Homo sapiens: one gene and its partners. The protein of the gene in region 1 purifies or fractionates together with the protein of each later gene. This does not show direct contact. Each region holds a gene or a part of one and is shown in the gene's direction. Other genes may lie near its edges.

Region 1 (3,500 bases):
GCGCCTGGCCCCTGGTGTTTTCTTTGGGCTGTATTTCATCGTCTTGCGTTTTTCTGCTCCCCAGGGTGCCTGTTACTCCTGTGATGCCCTCTGGAGCTCCCCCTCAGTTATTAACATGTAGTTGTTCGTTATTCTGATTGCCTTTGTTGTGGGGGACAGATGTGAGGGGCTACTAGTCGGCCATCTTTTTGATGTCATTTGTGTTTTCTTGATCATAGAAGAATATGAAGAAAATAACTGTTTTTAGGATATGTCTGTTTTTTAAGACTTTGAAACAACCACAGATGTTCACATTTGCAGCCTCCATTTGCAGAACTGTACAGTTTGTTCCATAGGGAACTGGAAATGAATAATACATCTCTCGTTTTTTCTTTGCATTCCCAGAAAATATTTACAGATTTGCAGTCTGAAGGATTCCCTGTAATAGAGACCAGCACCCTGACTGAGGAAGGTGTTATTAAAGTTAAAACAGAGGTCAGTGCTGCCTTAAGTCAGGTATTAGTCTTTTTACTGTCTCTTGTTTGATTCAAGTCAGTTGTGGGGAGAAAATAGTTTTCTTTCTAGACATTGTTAACACTTGGAGCCCTCGCAGTAGCGAGGCGGGTGGCGTGCGAGAGTGGGGCGTGAAGACAGACCCTTCTAAGACCCACTTTGCCCCCCGTGGACAGTGGGTTGTGAGGGGATGCTTTGCTCTTCTCACCCCAAACAACTTTACCCTAAAGCAGCTGTTGTCTCTGGCCTTTTAATATTTCGGTAGCAAGTACAGTGAAAATTATTTTTATGGAACCTGTTCGAAGTAGAAGGGAGAAAAGTCTGAAAAGCAGAACAGCTTTTGCAGGAGGCAGTCCGCTGCTGGATTTCACATGCTGTCCTAATTACTTTGTATTTCATGTTGTTTTTATCTCAAATAAAAGGACATTTCTGGCCAGGCGCAGTGGCTCACGCCTGTAATCCCAGCACTTTGGGAGGCTGAGGCGGGTAGATCACCCAAGGTCGGGAGTTCGAGACCAGCCTGGCCAACGTGGTGAAACTCCGTCTCTCCTAAAAATACAAAATTAGCCGGGCGTGGTAGCGCATGCTTGTAATCCCAGCTACTCGGGAGGCTGAGGCAGGAGAATCGTTTGAACCTGGGAGGCGGAGGTTGCTGTGAGCTGAGATCATGCCACTGCACTACAGCCTGGGCAGCAAGAGCGAGATACCATCTCAAAAAAAAAGATGGCACTCCTGATGCCATGGTCGCACTCAGGATTTAAAAAGATGGCACTCCTGATGCCATGGTCGCACTCAGGAATTTGTTGCTCGGTTAGAGTCCTGAGGGGCAACATTGCCTCCGGTTCGTGAAGGGCAGTTGGAGGGCACCGTCTGTGCAGAGGGTCACTGTGGTGGGAGAGAGGCCCAGGCACTGGAGATGCACCTTCCCTCAGGGCCGCTTCCACCTGGGCCTCAGAGAATGTGGCCCCCTACGTGTTAGTTACCTTGAGGGAAAAGGCTCAGTGGCTCTGATCTGTGGCTCCTCCTGGAACCTGTAGCTGGAGGCTGCTGGAGGATGCGTTTGTGACTGTGCCTTCTTTTTTACGTTATTAGGCTTGCGATAGGCTTTTGGCTCATCGAGTGGAAACCAAAATGAAGGGAAATAAAGTGAATGAGGTGCTGAATAGACTGCACCTGGCTATCCCAACCAGGAGGGACGATAAGGTAAGACGGCCCCTGGGACAGCCGTGGGCTCACAGTACTGTCAGCAGGTGCTGTCTGCGTGCCTTTTCCAGAAGCCTCCCATCCAGCTTCACACACTCGCAGGTGGATATTGTGGGTGGGCCTCAGTTTCACCTTCTTGCTTACATAAAGGATCGAGAAGGTGAAGAAAGTGCAGAACGCCACATGGCACCCGTTTCCCACTGCATGACGTGGTCACTGTTAGTTTATCCTTCCAGAAATGTTTCTGATATAGAAGATTAGTTTCTAAAAAGTTCTTTAAACACAGATGGAAATCTGTTTCATTCTTTAAATTTTCATTTTTTTGGCTGGGGGAAGTAGCTCACGCCTGTAATCCCAGCACTTTGGGAGGCCAAGGTGGGAAGATTGCTTAAGCCCAGGAGTTCTTGACCAGCCTGGGCAACATAGTGGGACCCTGTCTCTATAAAAAATAAATAAAATAAATTTTCATTGTTTTGTCCATTGTGAATGGGCACACATCGTTACGCTGTGTCTTCATGTTTTACTGCAAATGTGTCTGCACTTCACCATGTGGTGTTGACAACGTTCCTGTCCCACAGACGCCTTCCTGGTGTGTGCTGCACTGACGCTGGAGGCTGTGTCCTTCCCTCTGTCTTTCCTTGTGTCCTCGGCGTGGTCGGGCACTGACTGTCAGTCTTGTGTAAAGATGATTTTATTGTTGTGTGTTTATGTAATGCTGGGTGCGGTTGAGCATGTTTGTCTGCTTATTGGCCTTTTCAAAGTTCTTTAGGCTGTTTATCTTTTTCTCGCTGATTTGTTACTTTTGTATTACAAAGGTTGGATTCTTGTCAGATACATTGCAAATTTTTTTCTCTTTTTGTCACTTGCCTTTTTAACTTCAAATGTGCTGTACATTTTTGAACTATTAACATATATTAATTTTTTTTTCTGGGTGTTCAGGTTTGCATTGTACATAGAAAGGCTTACCATTCATTCCAAAGTCATTTTAAAAGTATCTTTTCTTGCTGGGTGCAGTGGCTCACGTCTGTAATCCCAGCACTCTGGGAGGCCGAGGCGGGTGGATCACCTGAGGTCAAGAGTCTGAGACCAGCCTGGCAATCATGGTGAAACCCCATCTCTGCTAAAACTACGAAAATTAGTCGGGCGCGCACCTATAATTCTACCTATTCAGGAGGCTGAGGCGGGAGAATCGTTTGAACCTGGGAGGTGGAGGTTGCAGTGAGCCGAGATCACTCCACTGTACTCCAGCCTGGGTGACAAGAGTGAGACTCTGTCAAAAAAAAAAAATTATCTTTTATACTAGCATTAAAAATTAGCTTTTTTGGATAGTCTTCACCGTGTCTTGAGTTGGTTATGTTGTGAGGGTGGAGGTTGCACTCCGTTTCAAGTGGTCGGCATTTCTGACCTGAGTATTGGAAATTTTATGTTTCCATTGAATTCTTATATGCACTTGAGTTTATGTCTAAATTTCTTTCATCTGTTGATCCAGTGTTATTTCTTACCACTTTCTTCTTCCATAATTTTTCATGATAATCATGATTTCTGTTTTTCCTGGATAAACTTTGGAATCACTTTGTGGAGTCCTCCTGGTCTCTGTGCTCAAAGTGACCCTGAACCCACTCCTCTCCCCTAAAATAATCTGTTGGTTGTTAATTGGTCTCGGTATGAACCCACTCCTCTCCCCTAAAATAATCTGTTGGTTGTTCATTGGTCTGGGTATGGTTTTCTGTTCCCCTTGCACGTAGGGAATTTGTTTCTACTTTTTCGGCTTTGTAAGTTTCTCATTCAGCAGGCATTTCACATAA
Region 2 (3,500 bases), on another chromosome or scaffold:
GGAATTGGTATTTCATGATCATTTAAAACCAAAGTAAGAAGTCCTTTTGATGGAAAATATATTCTGTAAATCAAACTTCGCTGTTGCCATTTTTCTGTTGTCAACCAATATCTGTTCTTTCCTCAATTTAGGAACAGTCGTGGTAAAATAATTAAACCCCTGCAATATCAATCAACGGTGGCTTCTGGCACAGTGGCAAGAGTAGAGCCAAATATTAAATGGTTTGGTGAGTATTATCCCCTGTTACTTTGCTCTACAAAATATATGCTGAGTGGAAACGGCTAGGATGTTTAAATGTCTAAACAGCAGGAGTTTTTGGTGAGTGAAACCGGCAAGGATTATCTGAGAAAGGGATAAGAAGAATTACTGGGAAAAGTAGTGGTGGTCAATTTAATAAATAACTTCTTTTTGAAGAGCGCTCACCATTAGTAATTGTAATTGAACCCTCTTAAGCAGATAAGACCATCCTTAATGACTAGCATTCACAGACCTTAGAATGCTCATCTTAATCTTTTCTGCTTTCCTAAAGAGATACTGTTGGAGAGGTGGCCTTGTAGGTTTTGTGCATATATCCTTCAGGGTAAGTGCATTAGCCCGAAGTTCCTCTGAAATACTTCTTAATGGGGTTTTTATTTGAACTTGGGTGACAATTAAAGGGTCTCACTGTTGAACTGTCCAACAGTGAATAGAGTATCTTCAGTCTCAGGGTGATCACAGCTTCTTCCTTGGAAAACTCCCTGTCTCATTTCAGTCTGGGCTCTTAACTTTGCCCTTAGCCACTGGTAAATGTATGGGCACTTTAGATGATCAGACCCCAGTGTTTGCTTGGTGTTTGACCTCTGTCCTTGGGGGCAGGTGGCAGCTATCTTTGAGTCTCTTATACTTTCAGTGGGATACTTCCTAAGAACTGCAACACAGAAAGGTGTCAAAACTCTGCAGAGAAGCATTTAGCATGGCTGCTGGGTACTGTGACTCGATTAGACTGCCTGGGTTTGAATTCTAGTTCTGTCATTTATGTGCCAGTGGGCAAGTTATTAAGTCTGTCTGTTCATCAGTTTTCTCATCCCTAACATGAGAATAAGATGAAACCTATCTCATAAGACTGTCATGGTAATCAAATGAGTAAATACAGGCAGGGCGCAGTGGCTCACGCCTGTAATCCCAGCACTTTGGGAGGCCAAGGCTGGTGAATCACTTGAGGTCAGGCATTCGAGACCAGCCTGGCCAACACAGTGAAACCCCCATCTCTACTAAATATACAAAAATTAGCCAGGTGTTGTGGTGGGCACCTGTAATCCCAGCTACTTGGGAGGCTGGGGCAGGAGAATCCCTTGAGCCCAGGAGGCAGAGGTTGCAGTGAGCTGAGATTGTGCCACTGCACTCCAGCCTGGGTGACAGAGTGAGACTCCATCTCAAAAAAAAAAAAAAAAAAAGAGTAAATATATATAAAGTGCTTAGAATAGCGCCTAGCAAATAGTGAGTATAATATAAGCATTACTTGCTACCGTCATTACCACCTTGCTGTTTTGCATTTATGCCGCAGCATGCTGTTTAATTGAATGCTTTTCAGGGTCTCCCTCACAAGATGTTTTCCAGGTGGTGGTGCAGGGCTCTATCTTGTTCCCTTGCATGGACTCATTGGTTAATAGTCCCTTTGAATCCTCATAACCCTAAAAGTGGCTAACTATGACTCAAATTTCAGTGTTTCAAGATTCTCTGTCTATACTGACTGATCAGCTGTGATTGGCTCCAGGTTTCTCTGCTAGATCTAGCAGGTAGTAGGACATTTGACAGATCTCAGTTCCATTCCACGCTATTTATTTCTCAGTTTCATTTAGTTAGGAAACTGGACTTGGAAAACTATTGAAACCCTTTGTGGGTCTGGATTTGTGGAATAGTTCATAGTGTGCAAGTGCGGGAGAGGCAGTTTTTTGGTTTTTTCCTCTTTTAAGTTTGAAAACAGCTCCAAGGGATGGATGGATCAGGTGCTTGGGTAAGTGAGGGTAATTTAAAATCTTGCCTTTCACCGTGTCAGTGGAAGATGGATGCGCAAATATTAACTAAGTGGCAACATTCTTTATTTGTAAAACAGGAAACACACGTGTGATTAAGCAGTCATCATTACAAAAATTTCAAGAGGAAATGGATACAGTTATGAAGGATCCATACAAAGTTGTCATGAAGCAAAGCAAGTTACCAATGTCTCTTCTCCATGATCGAATCCGGCCTCATGTAAGATGTAGGATATCCCTGGTGATGGAATTTCCTGGGCAAACTCCATGCAGATCCCTCTCTAACATATTTGTCTTTTGTTTTTCCTTAGAAAATAGTGACTTTAATGTAGCAATGATGAACTTTCTAAGACCTCTCTTTTCACCTTTTCATGTTTAGTATGAGGTGCAGTAGTGTAGTGGATCAAAGCACAGGTTTTGGAGTTGAGACCTGAATTTTAATCCTTGCTCTATCCCTTCCTGTGCCCTTAGTTGGGTTTCTCCATGAACTTTAACTTCTTTGCCTTGAAAGTATAGATAGGTCGGACACAGTGGCTCACGCCTGTAATCCCAGCACTTGGGAGGCTCAGGCAGGCGGATCACCTGAGGTCAGGAGTTTGAGACCAACCTGACCAACAAGAAGAAACCCTGTCTCTACTAAAAATACAAAATTAGCCAGGCGTGGTGGTGCATACCTGTAATCTCAGCTACTCAGGAGAGGCTGAGGCAGGAGAATCGCTTGAACCTGGGAGGCAGAGATTGCAGTGAGCCAAGATCGTGCCATTGCACTCCAGCCTGGGCAACAGGAGCGAAACTCCGTCTAAAAAAAACAGAAAGTATAGATAACCGACCTCCTTGGGTTATTGGCTACAGATGAAGCATCTGTAAAGCACTTGGCCCATAGTGAGCACATAGCACACCACCTAATAAGAGCTAAATTGATAACAGCTATTAGTAATATTATTTATTTTGGTAGGCAAACTTGTTTTAAGTGGTAATTCCATCAAACTTTGGGACAGCGTAGAATTAGGATTGAGTTGGTAGAACTTTGGTGTTGCGTACGTTCAGCTTTTGTGAGATCCTTGAGATTTTTTCTCAGCTGAAGGAAGGGGTGCTGGTCACATTGGTTGTCAATTGCTAAAATTTGAAGTGCAGTAAGGATTCAATCTGGGTTGAGTGGAATGAGTTTCACACAGAACAAAGAAAGAATCTGTTGTTTGTCTGCTTATTTTTACTTGCATTGAATAATAAATTCCCAGAAATGTAGCCAGTACGTAAGCTTCAGTTCCAGTATGAGGAGGGGAGAAAAACATTGACATGCATACGTGGGTTAAATAGTTCAGGCTGGGCGCGGTGGCTCACGCCTGAATCCCAGCACTTTGGGAAGCCAAGGCGGGTGGATCACAAGGTCAGGAGATTGAGACCATCCTGGCTAACACGTGAAATCCCGTCTCTACTAAAAATACAAAAAAAAATTAGCCGGGCGTGGTGGCGGGCACCTGTAGTCCC
Region 3 (3,500 bases), on another chromosome or scaffold:
TTTAATTAACTAAAAATTAAATTTGAGTAGCTCTATTGGCAAGTGGCTAGCATAGAGACTAGATTAGGAATCTGCACCCTGGGTTCAGATCCTGTTCGTTTTCTGGTCTTAGTGCAATTAACTTTTCAATGCCTGTGCCTCTCACTGACTTGACGTGGTCAAATACGATGATAGAGCTGAACAGATTCTGAGTTTTTAGAAGAAAGATGCTTTAAAATACAAAAGCTACTTTTCTCCATCTTCACTGCTTCTGCTGTACTCTCAACCAGTGTTGTCTCTTGCCTGAACAATTGGGGGATCAGGAAAGGATTCTAGAGGGAACCTTAAGTTTCCTCCATCCTTCCTCCTTTTCAGCCCATTCTCCACACAAGAGGCAGAGTGATTTTTTGATAATTTATTCCCTCTTGTTGCTTCCTGATGAAAAGTTTTTGAATAGCTTCTCATTGTAATTAAGATAAAATCCAAAGTGCTCAATGTGACCCGTGTAATCTTGTGCCTTCTTGCCTCTGAGGCCTCATTTCTCCTCACCCTTCTACACTTCAGCCACCCTGACCTTCTTTCAGGTTCTGGAATGTCAGTTCTTGTCTCCCTTAGAGCCTTTGCACCTGTTTTTTCCTTCCAACTACTGAGCATTCTGCCTCCACCACTCTTTACTTTGCTGAACCTTCCTCATTCTTCAGATTTCAGTCTCTAGCATTTCCCTCTAGCATCCTTTCCTGATCCCCCAAGTTAAACTAGATCCCTCCTGTTGTTTTCAGAGAGAGCATCTTGCAAATTCCCTCAATTTATTTATATAGATTTGTGTATTTATGTAATGTCCATGTCTCTCATGAGACTGTGAGCTTCATAAGGGTGAGGATAGAGTTGGTCCTGTTTTTCACTCTCTCCCCAGTGCTTAGCACAATGTCTGGCACAGAGAGGGTGCCCCGTAGTAGCTAATAAGTTGTGGAGCAAAGATTTGAACCAATGAAGTTTGGTTCCAGAGCCTGTACTGTAAACCACTAAGCTGTGCTACCTGAGTTTCTGTGAGTAAATGGTACCTTTGTTATGATTGCTTTTTTTTTTTTTTTTTTTGTTTGAGACAGAGCCTCACTCTGTCACCCAGGCTGGAGTGCAGTGGCACAATCTCAGCTCACTGCAACCTCCACCTCTCAGGTTCAAGCAATTCTCATACCTCAGCCTCCCGAGTAGCTGGAATTACAGGTGCCAGCCAACACACCCGGCTAATATTTTTTGTATTTTTAGTAGCGGTTTCACTATGTTGGCCAGGCTGGTCTCGAACTCCTGGCCTCAAGTGACCCGCCTGCCTCGGCCTACCAAAATGCTGGCATTACAGGCATGAGCCACTGCACCCGGCCATGATTGCTTCTTTAGGATCCGTAAGTGCACATCCTACTTCAGTGAACTTCAGCATGAGTTGTGGCTATAGATTCCCTTCTTGCCATGCATGTGATACTTGAAGGACTTTTTGAAATCTTCCTCAATTCCTAGTTCCATGTGGAAAAAATATACATTTCTAGGAATAATGTAGTAGTAGTATATCTTTTATCTGGAAAGTTCTTCAAAAGGTACTGGTTTGATTTTCCTTTGGTGAGGAACATTTTATTGCTTACATTGGAGATGATGAAGTTAGCTCTAGTGGAAGAGGACCAGGCGTGTGGCTCACACCTGAAATCCCAGCTCTTTGGGAGGCTGAGGTGGGTTGATTGCTTCAGCCCAGGAATTCAAGACCAGCCTGGGCACCATAGTGAGACCATATATCTACAAAAAATAAGTTAAAAAAAATTAGCTGGGCATGGTGGCATGTGACTGTGGTTCCATCTCCCAGCCACTTGAAAGGCTGAAGTGGGAGGATCACTTGAGCCTGGGAGATTGAGGCTGCAGTGAGCCATGACAGGCCACTGCACTCCAGCCTCAGTGACAGTGAGACTGTGTCAAGAAAAAAAAGAGAGAGGAGCGAGGCCTCCTTTGTTGGTACTGCGCTCTGGAGAGACTTTGAGTGTGAAGTATCTTAGTGAGTTAGTCTATGAAAACCATAGATGATTTTCTTCATATGTGAAATCTTGAGAGAAGTGTAATACTATATCCTTGCTGCTAATTCAAAGGGTAGTTAGTCTGGTATTAATTACTATGTTAAGTATAGTGGCAACTTCCCTGGTTCATCCCATAACACATACATTTCCACACATAGAAGAAGAAAGAGTGGGGGCTGATATCACAACCATGACAAAATTATGAAGGTGGATTCATTGTTCGTCCAGTGAATAGTAGTTGTTATTTTTCAGGTGGGAGAGGACACAGAGGAGACACCTCACCGCTGGTGGATAGAAACCTGTAAGAAACCTGACAGCGTTTCCCTTCATTGCAGACAAGAAGCCATTTTCGAGTTGTTGGGAGGTATACAAAGGGAAGACTGGGTTGTGTTGGGGAGGGAAGGGGGCCAAAAGAGCCTTTTGCAGTTGGGCCTCCAACATGTAGTATTGCTTTTTAACCTGCTGCTATTGTGACACAGCAAGAGAACCAAGTAAGAGAGGGACTGAACTCAGTGAATAAACACTATATTCATGCCTGGTTATGAAACAACAAACAAATGGTATGTTCATATTCTAAGTAACTGGCATTCTGATAGTGGAGATAAATGCATACACCAGGTACTGACCTAAACTCTATGCTTACCTGCACACAACTGCATTTTTGCTCATAGCTGCTGTAGTTATCACTGATAGAAGCATATGTGTTCATTTCATAAAAGAACCTTTTTTTATGTTGGCCTCATGTTTTTTGCAAGAAACCTCATTCTTTATGAATGTTAACTTATTCTCTAAAAGTATCAATGGGAAGAGAGGGAATACATGTTTTTAAGTAATTAGTCCAAGAAAAACGTTTCATTAGGAAATCTGAAAGATTTAAAAATACAAGCAAATACAGATGTATTATGAATGACTTTCTGTAAACTTCTTTTTGTTGTTGTTAAAGGAATAACATCACCAGCAGAAATTCCGGCAGGTACTATTCTGGGACTGACAGTTGGGGATCCTCGAATAAATTTGCCCCAAAAGAAGTCCAAAGCTTTGCCCAATCCAGAAAAATGCCAAGGTAAAGTTCCAAAAACACCCCAGGTTTTCCTTACTATTTCGAGCAGTCCAGTCTTATTAGAAGAAGAGTTCTTTCTCTGACACCTCTCCAGTAACTTCATCTGTAAAAAATTAGGGCAGTCTCCTTACCTGCCCACTTTACAAGCTGATTATGATCTAAGGAAATGGTAGGTGTGGAAGTGTCTTTTAGCAGTAAAACACGTAGCCTGATACTTATGTTCATTTTATTTTCCGAGTTCTCTTTTTTTAGTATCTAGTAAAACCTGTCTCTCTGCAAACTACGTTCTCTGAAAATGTCTGGCGTTTCAGAATTTTAATTGTGAGGAAGGGATCTGCACCCGAAGCTGGTCTTGTGCTCAGTGGAAGCCTCTGTCTGACCATACAGATGATCCAGGTTCGAATCCT
Region 4 (3,500 bases), on another chromosome or scaffold:
CCCTGGGTGACAGAGTGAGACTCCGTCTCAAAAAAAAAAAAAAAAAAAAAAAAATTTTTTTTTAAAGTCATTCTAGCAGGTAGTCAGTAGTATCTTGTTGTGGTTTTAATTTATATATCTCCATGAAGACTAGCAATACTGAGCTTCTTTTCGTGTTTTTATTTTACTATTTTCTTTGATGAAATATAGGTTTATATCTTGCCAGTTTTTTTGAGTGTCTTTTTATTATTGAGTTTTGGAGGTTCTATATATATTCTGAATTCAAGTTTTTTCTCAGATAAGTATTTTGCAGATATTTTCTCTTAAGTCTGTGGCTTGTCGTTTGATTTTAAGTGACTTTCAAAAAGCAGAAGTATTGAATTTTGGTGAGGTGTAGTTTGTTAAATTTTTTATAGTTAATAATTTTTGTGTATGCTGAGATACATTTGGCTAACCTAAAGTCATTTTCCTTAGAAATTTTAGTTTTAGCTCTTACATTTAGGTTTATAATTCATTTCGAGTTAGTTTTCATATATACTGTGACATAAGGGATGTTTTTGTCTTTTTTTTTTTTTTTTTTTTGGATTTGGATGTCTAATTGTGCCTGCACTGTTTGTTGAAGAGACAGTCCTTTATTTTTTGAGACAGAGTTTTGCTCTTGTCGCCCAGGCTGGGATTACAGGCTTGAGCCACCATGCCTGGCTGAGACAGTCCTTTATTAAATAACCTTTGCACCTCCCCTCTTCACATTTTGAGAACTTCCATGCTTTCTGATACAACAAAATGTTTTAGCCTCACTTTGAACTTCCCCTGCTCTAGCTTTAGCCCCAGTGGAAACATAAATTTCTAATAGAAATGGTCTTGGCCATTCCTCCAAGAAGATCCGGTTCCTTCTAATTGGGAGTGGTGTGTAGAGACAGGACAGGGTGCTAGCATGCTTGTTCCTGCTGGAGAGCCATGGCTCTCGGTTAGGAGATAGAGCTAGGAAATATGTATATTTTGAAATAACAAGTTTATTTTATTTGATTTTAGAGAAAAGAACTCACTTGGTACCCGGGCTGTAGTGCAGTGGCATGATCTCACCTCACTGCAACCTCGACCTCCTGAGCTCAAGTGATCCTGCTGTCTCAGCCTCCCAAGTAGCTGGGGCTACAGGCACACGCCACCACACACTGGGCTAATTTTTGTATTTTTTTTTTTTCCTCTGAGACAGAGTTTCGCTCTTGTTGCCCAGGCTGGAGTGCAATGGCGTGATCTCAGCTTACCGCAACCTCTGCCTCCTGGGTTCAAGCGATTCTCCTGCCTCAGCCTCCCGAGTAGCTGGGATTATGGGCATGCGCTACCACGCCCAGGTAATTTTGTATTTTTAGTAGAGATGGGGTTTCTCCATGTTGGTCAGGCTGGTCTCAAACTCCTGGCCTCAGGTGATCCGCCTGCCTCGGCCTCCCAAAGTGCTGGGATTACAGGCGTGAGCCACCGAGCCCAGCCAATTTTTGTATTTTTTTTGTAGAGACGGGGTTTTGCCATGTTGCCCAGGCTGGTCTCAAACTCCTGGACTGAAGCCATCCACCCGCCTTGGCCTTCTCAAAGTGCTGGGATTACAAGAGTGAGCCAATGTGCCTGGCCCCTTTTTTAGTTTTTTTTGTTTTTTAGACAAAGTCTTGCTCTGTCATCCGGGCTGGAATGCAATGGCGCGATCTCAGCTCACTGCAACCTCCGCCTCTGGGGTTCAAGCATTTCTCCTGTGTTAGCCTCTTAAGTAACTGGGATTACAGTCATGTGTCACCACACTCAGCTAATTTTTGTATTTTTAGTAGAGACAGGGTTTCACCCTGTTGGCCAAGCTGGTCTCAAACTCCTGACCTCAGGTGATCCACCCGCCTCGGCCTACCACAGTGTTGGTATTACAGGCGTGAGCCACTGCACCTGGCCCCCTTTTTTACTTTTTAAATGTCTTTTGATGAGCAGTTTATTTTTTATTTTATTCATTTATTTATTTTTGAGATGGTGTTTCGCTCTTGTTGTCCAGGCTGGAGTGCAGTGGTGCCATCTCAGCTCACTGCAACCTCCGTCTCCTGGGTTCAAGCAATTCTCCTGTCTCAGCCTCCTAAGTAGCTGGGATTACAGGTGCCCGCCACCACGCCCAGCTAATTTTTTATATTTTTAGTAGAGACGGGGTTTCACTATGTTGGCCAGGCTGATCTCGAACTCCTGACCTCGTGATCTGCCCACCTCGGCCTCCCAAAGTGCTGGGATTACAGGCGTGAGCCACCGCGCCCGGCCAGTGGTTTTTAATTTTGAGGAATTTCTTTTTTCTTTATGGTGGATATCTTTTGTGTTCAACTCTTTGCCAGCCTTACAGTCTTGAGGCTTTCTCCTGTTATAAAGTCTTTGTAATTTTAGTTTAGATCACATTTAAGTGATCCTAGGTCTAATTTTTGTTGTGGTATGAGTTAGAGATCATGGTTTGATTTTTTTTTCTTCCCCCCACCCCGCTCCATGCAGATACCTAGTTAGTTGCTCTGGTACTATTTTTTTAAGAGATTTTTAATTTGTTTTGGTGTGTTTGCCAAAAATCGAGTGACCTTATATGTGCAGGTCTTTTTCGTGCTGTTCTGTTGATCTATTTATCCTTACACAAAACCATATCCTAGTTGTTGTGACTTTATAGGAAGTTTTAAAATCTGGTAGTGTAAGTCTTCTATTTTTCTTTTTGAGTGTCTTGGCTAATATCGGTTAGATTTTTAAGTTTTTTTGTTTTTTTTTTGTTTTTTTTTTTTTGCTTTTTGAGACGAGGTTTTGCTCTGTTGCCCAGGCTGGGGTGCAGTTGTGTGATCATAGCTCCCTGTAGCCTTGATCTCCTGGGCTTAAGTGATCCTCCTGTTTTAGCCTCCCACATAGCTAGGACTACATACAGGGGCACACTACCACACCTGGCTAATTTTGTTTTTATTTTTGTAGAGTCAAGGTCTTGCTGTATTGGCCAGGCTGGTCTTGAACTTCTGAGCTCAAGTGATCCTCCCACCCTGGCCTCCCAGAGCGTTGGGATTACAGGCATGAGCCACCCTGCCCAGCCTGATTTTCTATCTGTGTTATTGTAATCACTTTCTTGATAATGTCCATGATACACAAAAGTTTTAAAGTTTGATTAAGTGTGACTTTTTTTTTTCCCTCTTGTTGATTGTGCTTTTAGTTTCATATCTTAAAAACCAATTGCCAAACCCAAAGTCATGAAGACTCGCCTGTTTTTGCTTCTGAGAGTTGTGCATGTTAGCGCCTCTGTGTAGGTCTTTGGTCCATTTGGAGATTGTAATCACTTTAATATGCAGCTAACTTTCTGTTCATGTTTAATTTTAGATTCTTTCCCCATCTTTGTTGACTTAGTTTTATTTCTTTAATATGTAAAACAGTAAATGCTTCCAGAAGTCAAAACTATCATTCCCGTCTCATCCCGTCTGTCTACCCTAATCCCTCACACCTGTTGTAGGTAACTAATTTCATTGCTTGCTTTTTGAGACGGA
Region 5 (3,500 bases), on another chromosome or scaffold:
TGATCCTCCCGCCTTAGCCTCCCAAGTAGCTGGGACTGCAGGCATGCACCACTATGCCTGGCTAATTTTTGCAGTTTTTTGTAGAGACAGGGTTTTGCCATGTTGCCCAGGCTGGTCTCGAACTCCTGGGCTTGAGTGATCTGCCTTGTCCTCCCAAAGTGTTGGGATTACAGGCGTGAGCCACTGCACCTGGAATTGTTTCCCTAGAGAGAGACTGGACTAAGTCGAGTTTAAAGAAATGAAGGAAATTGTTTAAGTTGGATAGACTATTGACAGGGCATAGAAACTTTTAAATAGGAAAGTCTAGTCCAAGAATATTAAGCTTACATTTCAAGTTACTGTAAGTGATGAAAAGGGAGCCAGGCAGAAGCCCTCAGAATAAGATTGAGGCCCCAGAGCAATCTTGGAGAGTGACTGTTATGATGCTTTATTTTTATTTCTGCTTTTCAGAATGTGTTTTGTTTTGAAAGCTATAAATTTTGTTTTACAGTATGCACTGAAAAAACCATACGGTGTACTATATAAAAAGTAAGTCATGATTTCTTTTACTGTATTTTAAATGATTTTGTTTCATTATAAAAGTAACCACTTTATGGAAGATTTGGAAAACAAAAACTTTTTAAAAAGATATTAAAATTCCTTACAGTTATTAATATTTTAATTTCTTTCTTTTGGTCTGTTTTTTTCATTTGTATTGAATGTCCTTGCATAGTTGTAACCATAGCATATATATTTTATTTTGAAATACAGATTTACAGAAAAGTGCAAAAATAATGCAGAATTCCCATATACCCTTCACCTGGCTTCCCCTAATGTTACATCTTGCATAACCGTAATGCAATGATCAAAACTAATAAATTAACACCGATTCACTCATGTTAATCAAATGACAGACATATTTGATTAGCACCAGTTTTTCTTTTTTCCTTCTTTTGAGACGGAGTCCTGTTGTCGCCCGGCTGGAGTGCAGTGGCATGATCTCTGCTCACTACAACCTCTAACTCTGGGTTCAAGCAATTCTTCTGCCTTGGCCTCCCATGTAGCTAGGATTATAGGCACGTGCCACCACGCCTGGCTAATTTTTGTGTGGTTTTTTTTTTTTTTTTTGAGACGGAGTCTAGCTTTGTTGCCAGGCTGGAGTGCAGTGGCATGATCTCGCCTCGCTGCAACCTCTGACTCCCTGGTTCAAGTGATTCTCCTGCCTCAGCCTCCTGAGTTGGGATTACAGGCATGCACCTCCATGCCCAGCTCATTTTTGTATTTTTAATAGAGACAGGGTTTCACCATGTTGGCCAGGCTGGTCTTAAACTTCTGACTTTAGGTGATCTGCGCGCCTTGGCCTCCCGAAGTGATGGGATTACAGGCGTGAGCCACCCCGCCCGGCCCAGTTTCTTTTTTCTTTCTTTTCTTTTTTTTTTAAGACGGAGTTTCACTCTTGTTGCCCAGGCTGGAGTGCAGTGGCATGATCTAAGGTCACTGCAACACCTGCCTCCTGGGTTCAAGCAATTCTCTTGCCTCAACCTCCCGAGTAACTGGGATTACGGGCATGCGCCACCACGCCCGGCTAATTTTGTATTTTTAGTAGAGACGGGATTTCTCCATGTTGGTCAGGCTGGTCTCGAACTCCCGACCTCAGGTGACCTGCCCACCTCGGCCTCCCAAAGTGCTGGGATTACAGGCGTGAGCCACCGTGCCCGGCCCTAGTTTTCCTTTTAATACTCTTTTTCTCTTCAGGATCCCATGTTGCATTTAGTTTTCATGCCTCCTTAGTCTTCTCCAATTTGTGACAGTTCCTTAGTCTTTCATTGTCTTTGATGACCTTGACATTTTTGACAAGTACTTGTCAGTTATTTTGTAAATTATCCCTCAATTTGGGTTTAAATTTTCTCATGAATTGATTGAGGTTATGCATGTTTGTCAAGAACACTACAAAAATGTTGTGCTTTCCTCATATATTCTTCTGGATTATAATCCAGTGTTCTTAATTTTGTTGCTTAAATTGTTCTGTTTGGCAATTGGGAACCCCCCCCCCCCCCACCTTTTCTTTTGTTTGTTTTTTTAGTATGAGACGGAGTCTCACTCTTTCACCCAGCCTGGAGTGCAGTGGTGCGACCTCAGCTCACCACAACCTCTGGCTCCTGGGTTCAAGCGATTCTCCTGCCTCAGCCTCCTGAGTAGCTGGGATTACAGGTGCCCAGCTAATTTTTGTATTTTTAGTAGAGACAGGGTTTCACCATGTTGGCCAGGCTGGTCTCAGACTCCTGACCTCAGGTGATCCACCAGCTTCAGCCTCTCAAAGTGCTGGGATTACAGGCGTGAGCCACTGCTCCCAGCTGGGAACTCTTTTACGTTGGTTCCTATGACCTTTCAACATGCCTCCTGTTTTTGAGCACTTCCTTACTTTCTAACATCACAAAATTATCTGGGTTCATCTTGTCTTTTTCCTTACCACAGCCCTGGAATAAGCTACAGTCATCCCTCAGTATCTGTGGGCGATGGGTTCCAGAAACCTCCCCTTATTAAAATCTGGGTATGCTCGTCTCTTACATAAAATGGCCTAGTATTTGCATATAACCCACACACTTCCTCCTGTATCCTTTTTTTAAAAAATGCTTCCCATAAAAGTAAGTTGCATATACTTTAAATCATCTCTCGATTACTTATAATATCTAATATAATGTAAATGCTATGTAAATAGTTATAATGCTGTATTTTCTGGTTTATCCTGCTTTTTATTGTTCCTTTTTCTTTTTATTTCTTAACTTTTTTTTTAGAGACGGGGTCTCACTGTTACCCAGGCTGGAGTGCAGTGGCACGATCATATTTCACTGTTGTAAGCCACTGTGCTCGGCGCCCCCTGCTTTTTTTTTTTTTTTTAACACACTTTCTTTGTCTATTGAATACTGTCAATCCGTGGTTGGTCAAATCAATCCATGGATGCAGAAGGATGCAGAATCCATATGTACAGAGGACTACTTATTTTCCACGAGCCTATAAACTCCATGAAAGCAAGCATCTTGTTTAATGTAGTAGTATAGTATCACTAGCTCCTAGAATGGTAGCCTGGCATATAACAGGCACTGAATAAATATTTGAATGAATGAATATCCTTTCAATTGTTTTATCATCTGAATATAAAATTACCTTAATATATTAATTGTATATACTTATTTAGATTATTAAAATTGTCACTTTTTTGATATTCTTAGGAAAAATATTACAAGACCTTTTGAGGATCAGACATCACTGGTAAGTATAATAATCTTTATGATTTAAGAAAGCATATAAGTAGTAATTATTCAGACTAATTCATTTGTACTCCAAATTTGTGATTTTTTTAAACATTAGAAGTCATCCTGTGTGAGGGAATTTTGTGTAAAATGGAGAGGAAATACTTTAAAAAATATCTATAGAGCTTTCATTTCACTATGGCTGGGAAATGTGTTTTTCATTGCCTGCAAATATATTGATAAAATTTTTAAAACTTGGCCGGGCGCGGT
Region 6 (3,500 bases), on another chromosome or scaffold:
TAACTCATTTATTTGCTTTATCTTAGGGTAGTATGTGTTTAATTAAAATTTAAAATCTATGTAAACATCTATGCCAGAGATTTTGCCTGTAAATAGTAAGAAATTAAAAAAATCAAAAATCTTTAACGTGTAAGAAAAAAAGTTCTAAGTAAGAAAGAGATAAACAACTTTAGCAAGTTAACTACTTATAAACTGTTTAATGTGCTTACCTCAACTAATGTATTTTCCATTGCAGTTCTCCAACTTTAATGATTTGTTGTATTGTTTTCCCTGTGGAGTGAATATTGATGTATTTTCATACCTGAGTAATTCTTGGTTTGTATTTTCACCTTTTAGTAAAGGAGACTGTAATAGTAAACTTGATCTTGTAATCTGAAGGAAAATATACATCCATTTCCTAGGGATATGAGTCAGTTTCTTTCAACTGTGATAGCTTAGACAGTGGCTATGTTTATGGGATTATGTATCTTTAAACATGAAGAATTTATCCCTAGGATATCTACACCTTTCCTCAATAAAATACTGGGTTCATCATGAATTGAATCTTTTAAGTTCTTTAATCTGGTTACATTTTTAGCTTATATTGCCTCTTGGTTTTTTTTTGTTTTTTTTTTTGTTTTTTTTTTTTTTTTTTTTTCAGTAAATATCCTGAAGATTGCATTTCTGGGAATTATTCCAGGTTCTTGTTTCAGATTAGTAACCCTTTTCTTGTTTTGTTTTTGCTCAAGTAGAGGGAGGGAACAGAATTCCAAAAGTATTCCCTGTGCAGATAGAAGTTAAAAGGGCTTTTATTAGGTTACAGGATCTGGTTCTTACATTCCAGCAGACTCTCTTGAACCAGTATATTCAGGGAGCCATTTGTAGTGACTGACGAATAAAGGCAAGGATCTCTTAAAATAGCATTCAAAGTAAAGTTTATATAATTTTCACCTATACCTGTACATCCTAAACTGTGGTACCCATACCCTGGGATTGTACAGTAGTGTGCCAGATAGTATGTGAACCTAAAGATTAAGTGAAATGTACCTTCTTTGATACACAAATTTACTGGAAAATAGAGTGGAACATTGTTTTAATCATGGAGGAACTGTAAAGTGAAAAGCAGAATTCAAACATAGAAATTTTGAATGTAACCAAAGATTTCAGAGAATTTTTTTATCTTGGAGCAAGTGACCACTGGTGATGCCACCCCCCACTCCACAGGGTTATACGTTTTTTTTTTCTCCTTTATTAGAGATTATTTTGTGGAAATGTGTGAGAAGTACTCTTATTTCACTGAGGTGTGTCTTTTATTTTTGGCATTTTTTGAGTGGCCCATCAAACTTTCCAGATAATTGGCTCTTCGTTCCCTGAAAGAGCTAAGTATAAGCACTTCACTTGGAATATTCACTCCTGTCTGTTGATCAAATTACAGAAACATGAATGCTAATCCTTAGGATCTTTTTTTTTTAACTTTATTATCCTTTTCTGTAAAGTAATTCAAAAGTGAATGAAACTTTTAATAGTATTTTTATTAGAAGTTACAGAAAATTTTTGACAGTCTAAATTAAATTACATTTACAAGTTGCCTCTCATTTATTTTATTTCTCAAGGAATGTTTATAGATTAGTATCTAAGTCTGTGGTTTATTTTAACATATAAATCTTTGATGTGATAGACTTACTTTAAGTGATAAATATATGGTTACATAAAACATTTTAAACTATTTTATAAAAAATATTTATAACTTTCACTTTTGTAGAAGAATACCTGCAGTTGACTTTTGATAAATCAGTATTTAAAATTTCTGCAATTTTGCATCCAAGTACCTACTTGAATAAAATACTTCTGGGCAGTGAACAAGGAAGCCTGCAGTTGTGGAATGTAAAATCCAAGTAAGTATTTTAGTTAGAAAATAATATAGCTGTCACCTTATCCTCATCTACTACTTCCTAATGTATACTTAAGTCTCATTTCTCCCTGCCCTTGTATATTTATTTGGAGGGTTGTCTATAAATAACAGTTGGTCCCCTGTATCAGAGGAGTCAATTAACCTGGGATCAAAAATATTCAAGGAAAAATAAATAAATAATAATACAACAATAAAACATCACATTTTAAAGTAGTACAGTATAACAGCTATTTACATAGTATTTACATTATATTAGGTCTTATAAGTAAGCTAGAGATTATTTAAAGTATATGCATAAATGTGTGAAAGTTATATGCAAATACCACACCATTTTATGTAAGGGACTTGAGCATCTGTGAATTTTGGTATCAGCAGAGAAGTTGGGGAAGTCCTGGAACCAATCCCCCACAGGTAGTGAGATATAACTATATGTTTGCTTTTGGAGTTGTTGCTGGTGGCATCACATATGTGAAAGGTGGCATGTGATCCTGACACATGTTAGACAGCTTCATAAATGCTCACTGAAAAGTATGTACTAATGACCTAATAACTGTAAAGAATTGCTATAGAGAAGGCTCTAATAAAGGTCTATGAGATCCATCAGAAAATAATAATAATGAGATTATTACTAGGGAGCTTCTGATTTTCCATACATGAAGATTTTCTATACATGAAGAAGGTAAAAGATGGAAAGGCAAATCAATAATTTAGTGCTAGCATTTAGAAATGATTTTTAGGGTTAAAAGTACTTCCATAATCTCCCATAGATATGGCAAATATCTAATATTGATGTAGCTAGAGGGCTGGATACATGATTTTGAATACTTCTATCCATTATGTAAACATTTATCAGTAGAAAAAGGTGGCAGCTCACACTTCTTTGTATAGCATTTTAAAAAGCAAACAAAAATATTTGACCATCCAAATTGTTTTTTTCCAAAGTCCTTTTAAATTCAAAAGGGAAAATAAGATTATTAAAGGTTTGATGTTTTAAATCAGTGTTTCATTACAATTTAACAAATACCATTGACTGCCTACTTTGTGCTAGGTTCAGCAATAGTGACTGAAATACTGTCTTTGCCCATTTACAGAATTTAATACATGATTTAATATTTTAATGATAATTATAATGATTTCAGATACCTCTGTTTGCTCCATGGATGTGTTATTTATCATTCATGACTTGCTTCTGAAATTGAGAGCAGCATTACTGTTGTCATATAACAGTCATATAACATGCAAATAATATTTTTATTAAAATATAAGTTATTCCCTTTCATGATGTTTCTATAAAGATACTGCAGTCCTAAATTTTTTTTACTGTAGCCTGTAATATAACATGATTTTTACACACGTATTTTTTTTTCCACTTAGGACATTTAATTTCTTAATGAGGTGGCATAGCATAGTAGTTAGTTTGAGACCTAGAATTTGTCTGGACAATATTACTAACCTTGTGACATTAGCTTAATCATCAGAATAGTGTGTGGAAGAGTAAGAACTTAATAAATATCACCTATTATTATTTCACTTTTTAATGTGTAGCTGATATTGTTTTCCTCCAAAAAAAAAAAAATACAGCTTTCAACTATTTTTCTTCTTGTAGTAA
Region 7 (3,500 bases), on another chromosome or scaffold:
GCAGTGAGCCGAGATCATGCCACTGCACTCCAGCCTGGGCAACAAGAGCGAAACTCTGTCTCAAAAAAAAAAATAAAATAAAATACAGATGAAATTGTACTTAGATCATGGGTCGGTGGGGAGAATGTAAAGAGGTAGCACATGAGAAGGTGGAGCCCGTGCTGGCAAGTGGCAGAAGTGTCACGGGTTTGAGTTTGGATTTGCAGCCTCCTTCTTGAGCTGCTGGACCCCAAGTGTTAGAGCCCAGGTGCTTACAATCTCCGGGGCTCAGCCTCGTGGGTAGCAGAGGATAGGCTGCTATCCTTTTTCTGAGATGGAGTCTTGCTCTGGAGTCACCTGAATGCCCCTTGAGCTCTTCCCACACCCAACCACTGGCAAGGCCTGGAGCATCTGCCCCATGGCTGTGTCCTGGGTCACCCGCAGCCCCAACGCACGGCCTTACCCTGCCTCGGCCTTTTCTCCACAGCGGCCAGCACGCCTGCACACCAAGCCGTCCCAGGCACCCGCCGTGGAGGTGGCGCCTGCCGGAGCTTCCTACAATCCATCCTTTGAAGACCACCAGGTACACTGCCCCGTCCAGGCCTCCCTCCTCAGTGGGCTCTGCCTCTTGGTCAGGCCTTCACTAGCTTCCTCCCTGTGCTGGGAACTCCAATGACCCAGACAGCCCTGGGCCTGTCCGCAACGGGGCTCACGGTCCAGTGCAAGAGACCTGTTCCCAGACAGTGATGGGCAGAGTGGTTGGGGCTGGGAGCCCAGACGGGGCACCTGGCCCAGCCTGGGGGGTCAGGAAGGGCTCCCGGGAGGAGGGGTCGCCTGAGCCGAGGCAGAGGCTGAGGGAGGGGTTTGCAGTGGGAGGAGGGGAGTGGGTTTTCCAGGTGGTGGGAACAGCACTGCAAAGGCACAGAGTTGAGAGAGACCGTGGCGCCTTCCAGGAAGCCTGTGGGGCAGAGATGAAAAAGGCTGTGGTGACACGGTGGCACACTGGCAGCCAAGTGACAGTTATATATGGGCGAGGCTAGCTCAGCGATGGGAAAGTCTAGCTGGAGCCACTGTGCATTTAGCGGGCATCTGTTGAGCACAGATGCTGTGGACAAAGGGGACAAAAACCCCTCCCTTGGCCGGGTGCGGTGCCTCACACCTGTAATCCCAGCACTTTGGGAGGCTGAGGCGGGCAGATCATTGGAGGTCAGGAGTTGGAGACCAGCCTGACCAACATGGTGAAACCCTGTCTCTACTAAATACAGAAAATTAGCAGGGCATGGCAGCACGCATCTGTGGTCCCAACTGCTTGGGAGGCTGAGGTGGGAGGATTGCTTGAGCCCAGGAGGTCCAGGCTGCAGTGAGCTATGATCGCACCACGGCACTGCAGCCTGTGTAACAGAGCGAGACTCAAAAAACAAGCACAACCCTCCCTCAAGGAACAGCCCTTCTCATGGGGTCACGTGACTGGAGAGATGCTGAGATGTTTGCGGTAGATGCAGGACCGCTTGTCCGAATCGTTTTCAGCATTCATAAGAAGGAGATAGCTAGCCAGGAACAGAGGCAGCTTCCTCATCTGGTAGAGAAAAGTGTCTGCGGAAAAAAGCAACAGTGTGCTCATGGTTGAAAGCGTGAGGGTGCCGCTCACTGCCATCTGTTCCTGGACCAGATGTGGGAGGGGGCGTGGAGATCAGACATTCACTTTTAGATTTGTACAGAACTACTTCGTAGAGATAAAATTCACTTAACCATACGGTCAGCCTAGTTAGAGTATGTGATTCAGTGGCTTTTAGTGACCATTGTGTAACCATCCCCGCAGTCAATTTTAGAACATTTTCACTGTCCGTAAAGGAAACCTCACACATGTCAGCCATCACCCCCGCAATTCCCTGTCTCGTGTGGTCTTGGGCTGCCAGGCTTCCTGTCTCAGGGACCAGCCCACCCTGACCAATTCACATAGATGAAACTGTGGGCCGGGCATGGTGGCTCACACCTGTAATCCCAGCACTTTGGGAGGCCGAGGTAGGTGGACCACCTGAGGTCAGGAGTTCAAGACCAGCCTGACCAACATGGAGAAACCCCATCTCTACTAAAGTTACAGAATTAGCCGGGTATGGTGGCACATGCCTGTAATAGTAGCTACTCGGGAGGCTGAGGCAGGAGAATCGCTTGAACCCAGGAGGCGGGGGTTGTGGTGAGCTGAGATCACACCATTGCACTCCAGTCTGGGCAACAAGACAGAAACTCTATCTCAAAAAAAAAATGTGAAGCGTGCAGGTCAGACTGCCTTCACAGACGTGCAGAGCAGGTGTGAGGGCGAGGGTTTGAGGTGCCCTCTGGCTCTGTGCAGGGTGGGTGTGCTGGTAGACGGGGTGTGGGGAGGAAAGCCTGGGCCGGGGCGGGATCCACGGGCACTGGATGAGGGACAGATGGGAGGTAAGAGGGTCTAGTCTCAGTGTCCCAGGAGGGGTTCAGGGACCCATCCTCACTCCCGCCCCTCAGACCCTGCTCTCAGCGGCCCACGAGGTGGAGTTGCAGCGGCAGAAGGAGGCGGAGAAGCTGGAGCGGCAGCTGGCCCTGCCCGCCACGGAGCAGGCCGCCACCCAGGTGAGCCCCGCACCTGCCCACTCCCTCCCCTCCCCGGGCCTCCTACCCACCCCTGACACTGCACCCCGCCTCCCCAGGAGTCCACATTCCAGGAGCTGTGCGAGGGGCTGCTGGAGGAGTCGGATGGTGAGGGGGAGCCAGGCCAGGGCGAGGGGCCGGAGGCTGGGGATGCCGAGGTCTGTCCCACGCCCGCCCGCCTGGCCACCACAGAGAAGAAGACGGAGCAGCAGCGGCGGCGGGAGAAGGCTGTGCACAGGCTGGTGAGCGCCTGGGCCAGCGGGGCCTGCCTCTGATGCCTCGCCCCCTTCCTTCCTTCCTCCCACCATGGGCTGCCCTGGGTGCTGCGGGCAGCCTGCACACCCCAAGCCCCGCATGTGGCCTGTGGTTTGGGCTGTTTGGGATCCTCACAGCTGAGACTCATTTCCCAGCCTCTTCCAGGCAGGGCTCGGGCTGGGGTGGGACAGGGTCCCTGGCGCTTCTGTTTGAGGGGCGGGGTGGGGGGAGGTTTCTGCACCGCAGACCAGGGGAGATGGATGACAAAAGGGGCTTCAGCAAACAGCTGCTGGGAAGGCACTGGAGGGGCCGCTGATGTGACGGGGTTAGGAAGGGCCTCCGGGGACAGGCAGGTTTGTGCAGGGAAGGCTCCCTGTGTAGAGAGAAGGTCTCCCTGTGTGGGCAGCACCGGCCTGAGCCCTGACCCTCCCCCGTCTCCACAGCGGGTACAGCAGGCCGCGTTGCGGGCCGCCCGGCTCCGGCACCAGGAGCTGTTCCGGCTGCGCGGGATCAAGGCCCAGGTGGCCCTGAGGCTGGCGGAGCTGGCGCGGCGGCAGAGGCGGCGGCAGGCGCGGCGGGAGGCTGAGGCTGACAAGCCCCGAAGGCTGGGGCGGCTCAAGTGAGAACCAGGCCGGGGGTTC

What was found.
Region 2: the proteins of GTPBP4 (region 1) and GNL2 purify together in Homo sapiens (affinity purification with mass spectrometry; 2 studies listed by BioGRID and IntAct, with this or other methods). This does not show direct contact.
Region 3: the proteins of GTPBP4 (region 1) and POP1 purify together in Homo sapiens (affinity purification with mass spectrometry; 2 studies listed by BioGRID). This does not show direct contact.
Region 4: the proteins of GTPBP4 (region 1) and STAU1 purify together in Homo sapiens (affinity purification with mass spectrometry; 2 studies listed by BioGRID). This does not show direct contact.
Region 5: the proteins of GTPBP4 (region 1) and RPF2 fractionate together in Homo sapiens (co-fractionation; one large-scale study listed by BioGRID). This does not show direct contact.
Region 6: the proteins of GTPBP4 (region 1) and WDR36 fractionate together in Homo sapiens (co-fractionation; one large-scale study listed by BioGRID). This does not show direct contact.
Region 7: the proteins of GTPBP4 (region 1) and NOP53 purify together in Homo sapiens (affinity purification with mass spectrometry; 2 studies listed by BioGRID and IntAct, with this or other methods). This does not show direct contact.

Annotation. Positions count from the first base shown.
Region 1 is NC_000010.11:1,005,434-1,008,933, forward strand, and holds part of GTPBP4 (GTP-binding protein 4), read left to right. Parts: intron 1-384; coding exon 385-474; intron 475-1,584; coding exon 1,585-1,695; intron 1,696-3,500. UniProt on the Homo sapiens protein: Involved in the biogenesis of the 60S ribosomal subunit. Acts as a TP53 repressor, preventing TP53 stabilization and cell cycle arrest.
Region 2 is NC_000001.11:37,589,438-37,592,937, reverse strand, and holds part of GNL2 (nucleolar GTP-binding protein 2), read left to right. Parts: intron 1-131; coding exon 132-226; intron 227-2,092; coding exon 2,093-2,232; intron 2,233-3,500. UniProt on the Homo sapiens protein: GTPase that associates with pre-60S ribosomal subunits in the nucleolus and is required for their nuclear export and maturation.
Region 3 is NC_000008.11:98,137,793-98,141,292, forward strand, and holds part of POP1 (ribonucleases P/MRP protein subunit POP1), read left to right. Parts: intron 1-2,285; coding exon 2,286-2,397; intron 2,398-2,976; coding exon 2,977-3,096; intron 3,097-3,404; coding exon of another isoform or gene 3,405-3,412; exon of another isoform or gene 3,413-3,473; intron 3,474-3,500. UniProt on the Homo sapiens protein: Component of ribonuclease P, a ribonucleoprotein complex that generates mature tRNA molecules by cleaving their 5'-ends. Also a component of the MRP ribonuclease complex, which cleaves pre-rRNA sequences.
Region 4 is NC_000020.11:49,125,835-49,129,334, reverse strand, and holds part of STAU1 (double-stranded RNA-binding protein Staufen homolog 1), read left to right. Parts: intron 1-3,500. UniProt on the Homo sapiens protein: Binds double-stranded RNA (regardless of the sequence) and tubulin.
Region 5 is NC_000006.12:110,988,538-110,992,037, forward strand, and holds part of RPF2 (ribosome production factor 2 homolog), read left to right. Parts: intron 1-490; coding exon 491-528; intron 529-3,209; coding exon 3,210-3,249; intron 3,250-3,500. UniProt on the Homo sapiens protein: Involved in ribosomal large subunit assembly. May regulate the localization of the 5S RNP/5S ribonucleoprotein particle to the nucleolus.
Region 6 is NC_000005.10:111,098,848-111,102,347, forward strand, and holds part of WDR36 (WD repeat-containing protein 36), read left to right. Parts: intron 1-1,741; coding exon 1,742-1,874; intron 1,875-3,497; coding exon 3,498-3,500. UniProt on the Homo sapiens protein: Part of the small subunit (SSU) processome, first precursor of the small eukaryotic ribosomal subunit.
Region 7 is NC_000019.10:47,752,046-47,755,545, forward strand, and holds part of NOP53 (ribosome biogenesis protein NOP53), read left to right. Parts: intron 1-466; coding exon 467-562; intron 563-2,481; coding exon 2,482-2,586; intron 2,587-2,663; coding exon 2,664-2,846; intron 2,847-3,302; coding exon 3,303-3,478; intron 3,479-3,500. UniProt on the Homo sapiens protein: Nucleolar protein which is involved in the integration of the 5S RNP into the ribosomal large subunit during ribosome biogenesis. In ribosome biogenesis, may also play a role in rRNA transcription.